2 separate regions of the Homo sapiens genome follow, and region 1 is linked to region 2. The links come from fine-mapping of genetic effects on gene expression. A gene starts in region 2. The other region holds a variant in brackets. All regions are shown on one strand. Distances are between the middles of the regions.

Region 1 (2,908 bases), 48 kb before region 2:
CCAAGCCAGGGCTATTTCTGCCATGGGAGCCAGGAAGGGGTGAGGAAGGCTGGCTGGGCTGGGAAAGGGCAGGGTTCAGGATTGGGAAAGACAAGGAGCGGGGATCTGCACTGGGCATAACCATGGGCATTGTGACCTGCCCAATGGAGAAGGGCATCCGAGGAGCCAGAGAGGGACTGGGTTGAAACACCTGAAGCATGAAGTCTGTCTGCAGAGGAGAAGAGGTAGAGGACGAGAGAGAAAGGAAGAAAAAGAAAGTTTAGGAAACTGGAGAAGACATCAATGAACAACTCTTGCACTGAATAGGGATGGTCCCAATATCTTCATAAAAAGAACACGCAGAAGACTCTGCTGCTGCTACCAACACAGAAAGGTGAACTTCCCCCCAAAGCCACTCTCTTACCTCTGATGGGGGTGGAGGTAAAGTGGGAGTAGGGATTTGAGGAAGGCTGCTCAGCTTGGCTCCGTTCCTCACTAACTGGATATGACTATTAAATTGGTCCTAAAAAAAAAAAGGATTATTTTTACTGCTGAACTGACTCAGGCTCTCTAGAAAGACAGCACCATCCATTATCAGGAAAACAAAAGGAATAGTAGGATAGGCCCCAAATGGCAATGCAAAAGGCTACCTCCCAATTGCTGGAAGTGTTAAGCACAGACTAACACTGACTGAATGATGACTCATAGATACACTTACACGAACATTCTTTTTCATTATCCGAACTCCATTCAGTCTCGTCTCCCACTCCTGTTTGGAACGAACTGTCTCCAGTGTTGGGGGAGTTGACCTTTCAAGAAACCAACAGGAATTTACAGATTTAAAGAAAGCCCTGCTAGGAACAGTGACTCACGCCTGTAATCCCAGCACAAGAGGCCAAGGCGGGCAGATCACTTGAGCTCAGGAGTTCTAGACCAGCCTGGGCAATGTGGCTAAACCCTGTCTCTTAAAAAAATGCAAAATTAGCCAGGTGTGGTGGCTCACGCCTATAGTCCCAGCTACTTGGCAGGCTGAGGTAGGAGGATGGCTTGTGCTCAGGAGATGGAGGTTGCAGTGAGCCAAGATGGCACCACTGCACAACAGAGGGAGACCCTGTCATTAAAAAAAAAAAAAAAAAAAAAGCCCTATTCCTAATTCTCTGAGATAGCAAAAGCAAAATAGTAGCTGGCTAATTGCCGTTGAGAAGAGGTGGGAGCAGGTGCAGGAGAAGCCCAAGATTCGAATTCCTTTGCCTCACTTTAACTCCAGTATCTTTTAAGTAATTGAGAAAGAGAACCAACAACAGAGAGAGGGTTCTTGTCTGCCTGAAAATGCCACAAGGGTCCTCCAAGTTCCATGGCAGAAAGAAAATAAATGACTACATAGGAAATGAATCTCCAAAGATCATTGTTATGCTTTATAGGTTAACAGATGCTGGTTATTTTTTATTTTTTAGAGACAGGGTCTCACTGTCACCTAGGCTGGAGTGCAGTGATGCCATCAAAGCTCACTGCAGCCTCGGCCTCCTGGGCACAAGTGATCCTCCTGCCTCGACCTCCCAAAGTGCTGGGATTACAGGAGCATGCTATTACGTCTGGCTTTAACAGATAGTGTTTATCCAAATGGAAACAAAACATTAAAAAATGCAAAACTATAAAACTGTAGCAGGGAAGAGTTACAGTACAGAACTTTAGAATGTGAGAGGAAAAACCACTGAGCAATTGCTACTGCAGACAGAGATAGCCTTACAATTCCTGTGCAGATAGAATAAGTGCCAGACTAGCTGGCCTAGGAATGAAAAAACCTAAACAAACAAACAAACAAAC[T/AAACT]GCAAAACAATTAAAGCTCTAGAACGGAAAGGTACTTACTTGAGGTAAGTAAGGTGCAATTCTGCCTCTTTTTCTGCTTCTTCTAGTTTCAGTACCAGTAACTCTTTCCGGCTCTCTAGTGATAAGATCTAAGGAAGCCACACACATATAAATACTTTATTAATTTTACATACACAAAGGTACCTCTAGGTAGTGAAAACAAATGCTTACTGGCTCTCCTATTACAATGCCAAAAGTAGATACCATCTGGAAGCCTGAAACTAAGACTTTCAAGATATCAGCTCCTCTTCTCACCTCTGCCTTCCAGGCCCGTTCAGTCTCTTCCATAATGTTCCTATTTATTTCGCCATCCTGATTCTTGAGTCTATCCAGTTCCATTTCCCACACCTCTCTGTAAGATAAGAAACCAAGAACAAGACTAAGGAAGAAAGATAAGCTTGTTGAGAGATACCAGGGCAAAAGTACAACCCAAAATTGGTCAGCCAAGTATGTTACAGGAAGTCTTACTCTAAGTATTAACTATACTTATTTTTCTTTCTTCTTTATTCTTTGCTAATCAAAAGAGAGCTGGAGTATAAGTATCAAATATAGATACAGACAAATAATGTTTACAGTGGTCTGCAGTTGCATAATGGCCCTATATTTGAAAGTAAAAACGTTGTGACCGGGCGTGGTGGCTGACGCCTGTAATCCCAGCACTTTGGAAGTCCAAGATGGGCAGATCACTTGAAATCAGGAGTTTGAGACCAGTCTGGCCAGCGTGGTGAAACCCCATCTCTACTAAAAATACAAAAATTAGCTGGGCGTGATGGCGCACGCCTGTCGCCTAGTCCCAGCTACTCAGAAGGGTGAGGCAAGATAATTGCTTGAACCTGGGAGGCGCAGGTTGCAGTGAGCCGAGATTGCACCACTGCACTCCAGCCTAGGCTACAAAGCGAGACTCTGTCTCAAAAAAAAAAAAAAAAAAAAAAAAAAGTTTGTATCTCCACTTGCTAAAATAAAGTTACCTACAGCAGGAAAAAGACTGCATCTTAGAACAAAAGCCCTCCATTGAAGGCAGAACATTCTTCTACGTTCAAGAGGATTCAAAACCATTATGGCATTC
Region 2 (2,908 bases):
CAAAAAGAAAGACCAGCTACACAAGACCATCTCAAAAACCCTTTACCCAAATGAATCTTCCCAGTCAGGAGTCCACACATTACCTTAGACCATCTGGGAGACCTTCGTCTGATTTGGAAGCACATAAACTAGAAGATTCCGGAGGACTGGGGGCATTGGCCACAACACCAGCAACCTCAGACGCTGCCATTATGCTCTGTACATTCAGAAACAAATTACAGGCTACAAGTTTCCAAAGTTTAAAACAAATGTATCTCTCCCCCCTCAGAATGTCCACACAACAGAGCTGTCGCAGTAAAGAAACACAAAAACCTGGGCTCCGGGAGAAAATACTTAAGAGTACTAAAAGAGACATTGTATGCAAAGTCCTAGTGTCCTAGTGGGCAGCAATCCTCAGGAGTCACTGTATTTACATAAATATCTAGGAGTCTGTGCAAAGATCTTATTTTCACTTTTGGCAGAAATGTAGTCATTTCAAACAATACATCTTAGTCTGCCAGGATCTTCCAAGTGGTCCCAGGCCTACCTTGTCTGCTATCATTTTTAATAAAAGACGTACTTTTCGGCCTAGTATCAATCAGATCTCATGTTTTTAAATCACTTTATGGCTGTTACATTCAAAGCATTCTCCATTAATTTAAGGGAAGTTTTTGGAGGTGTCTGCCTGTAAGTCAACAAGTAATGCAATACTGGGCAATCCAGGGTGCATATTTTACTGTCAGCGTGCTCCCCACAGATGGGAAAGGCCTGATACCCACTAACTGAGCAAAGAACAGACTCTTCAGAGTGACTAGTGGTGCAAAAAAGAATCCTGGGTTCTCTAGCGTGAAAAAGTCAAGGTAAAAAACATGGTAACACAAGTAAGGGAACTGGGACGGACGCCTTTTTTAAAAATCAAAAGGTCATCTTTTATGCCGCAGAGCAAACTTATGACCTTATGAGGAGAAAAGAAAATCAAAATACTTGGGAGGTGGGGATGAACATCGGGTTAGTTTGCATTCTTGCTTTTATTTTAACAGCATCACACGTATTCCCCCCCGGAACACTGAAGAGCGCATAGGGCAGATAGGTAGATGGGGCTGTGTCAACACCTCAGTCACAGCCCACAGACCCTCTGTGCCTCAGTTTCCCTCATTATACAAAGCTCCTGGGAGAAAATGGGCCCAAACCGCCATTGCTGCTCCCTCAGGTGCAAACATCCCGTCTCCAACATAGCCCAGGGCTGGGGGGTCCTCTGCGCCCGGTGAACGAAACCCCAGGACAAGGGCCATGCATGCAACTCCGTGGCTAGAGAGCCCGTGGCGCGGGTAGGAACAGCTGGCTGGAGGGTCGAGTGTACCAAAAAGAACTCCGCAACCCGGGGCGACCACCAGCGAAGCAGGGGCGCCGGAGCCACGGGTCCTCGGGCGAGAACAGGGGACAGACGGGAAGGGGACAATGGGGGGAAGCGGCGCTGGGTGGCCTTGGCCACCCCCCACAGGGGACTGCTAGGCTGGCCGCTGGCTCGGACCAGACCCCCCTCCACCCCTTCCCCTCGGTCCCCCCACCCCGCTGCCAGCCACCCCCCCGTCCCACTTCTAGGCCGGGACCCCCGCCTCGGTTCTCACAGCACCCTCCACGCCCCCCACCCGACCCCCATGCCCGGCCCTCGCCCCGCAACCCCCACCCACGCTCGCCCCGCACACACCTCCCGCGCCGCGCCCCCGGGAGGAAAGTGGGGGAGGGACGGGACGCACCTGAGCGGGCGGAGCGGGGGGAGGGGGCGGCCGAGCCACGGGGGGAGGGGTCGAGCGCCGGCCCGCGCGCGGCACCTCCCACTTCCGGCGGCACGAGCGGAGGGGGCGAGGCTCCGGCCGCGAGAGGAGAGGCCGCGGTGGCGCCGCGCCGCCCCCGACGGCGCCCTCTGGCGGCGACAGCTGGCGCCGCCGGGGCACGGGGATGCTGCGGGAGACCCCTGAGATACAAGTGGACTCTCCCGGGGCGCGGGGAAGAAGGGAGAGCCGACTGCGAGAAGGAAGGCGACCTGGGTGGGCAGGATCCCCTCTGGGAAGATTACAGGGACAGTCGGGGCCATGGCGGTCAGAAGGAGAAGAGCAACGAGTGGCTTTTAAAGGTCGGAACCGAAATGCCCTTTACAGAGGACGCCATGAAGGAGAGCCTTCTGAAGAGGGACCATGTGGAAGATGCCCCGAGGACTCGGGGAGGCGGAGCCCGCGGGTTCAGCCCCCAGCGCCCGCACGGCCCCTGCCTGCGTAGGCCGCCCGCGGGAGCCGGACCCCGGGCGCCGGTTGCTGTGGCCCGCGGGGGTCGCCGGGCCGCAGGCGCCGCGCTGATTGGCTGCGCCGCGGGCGGAAGTGATGCTGCTGTCACTGCTCCTCCGGCTCCCGGGAAGCCGCGAGTTTCCGCAGGGAGGCGGCGGCAGCTGCGGCGGGGCCGGTGAGTTGGGAACTAGGTGTGGGGCTGGACCTGGGTGGTCAGGGGGCCCCAGAAGTGGGGGAAGCCGGCGTCTGAGGATGAGGGAGCTGCACAGAGGGTGCCTGAGGTCCTGGCGTGGGGGACCAAGGAGATGGGGCCCCAGGGCCCAGAATTCCTGGATAATGTGGGTGCTAATGAGGAGAGGGGCACATTGCACGGAGCGATCGAGGCCGACGGAGGGAGAATCGGGAAACTGACCCGGTACCCAAGCTGGCTTCTAGGAGCCGGGTGTGGAACAGCGAGGACAGTAGCTTGGGAGCAGGATCTTGGACTCCAGGCTGCCCATTCTCTTCTTCCTTGTCAATTAAGAGCTGTAAAGGGAGGCCTAGCCGTTGGGAGAGGTTGAGACCTGCTTTCAGAAGGCATTTAAGGTTCCTTTCCCAGAAGCCTGGGGGATAAAAATGCTGCTTTGCCACTAGTAGACAGAAGGAGC

Which allele goes with the higher level. Alleles are on the strand shown, and positions count from the first base shown. SD is a standard deviation of normalised expression in the study named.
For the expression in regulatory T cells of the gene that starts at base 1,792 in region 2, allele AAACT in region 1 goes with a lower level than allele T (large effect, 0.92 SD a copy in Schmiedel 2018).

Evidence for each region.
Region 1: its variant is fine-mapped to the expression of RNF214 in regulatory T cells (Schmiedel 2018, PIP 0.95).

The regions. Positions count from the first base shown.
Region 1 is chr11:117,279,194-117,282,101 of GRCh38, reverse strand. RNF214 (ring finger protein 214) reads right to left here. Exons shown (of 15, transcript NM_207343.4): 7 at 2,098-2,194; 8 at 1,843-1,931; 9 at 698-788; 10 at 404-502; 11 at 1-208. Among named protein-coding and RNA genes, the nearest start is that of BACE1, 36 kb to the left of the region's middle. The variant T/AAACT (reference allele first, on the strand shown) is at 1,804.
Region 2 is chr11:117,231,555-117,234,462 of GRCh38, reverse strand. It overlaps RNF214 (ring finger protein 214), which reads right to left and starts at 1,792. Exons shown (of 15, transcript NM_207343.4): 1 at 1,737-1,792; 2 at 84-196. The coding sequence starts at 190. PCSK7 (proprotein convertase subtilisin/kexin type 7) reads left to right here and starts at 2,390. Exons shown (of 17, transcript NM_004716.4): 1 at 2,390-2,436. RefSeq lists silencers at 1,653-1,992, 2,203-2,352 and an enhancer at 2,543-2,592.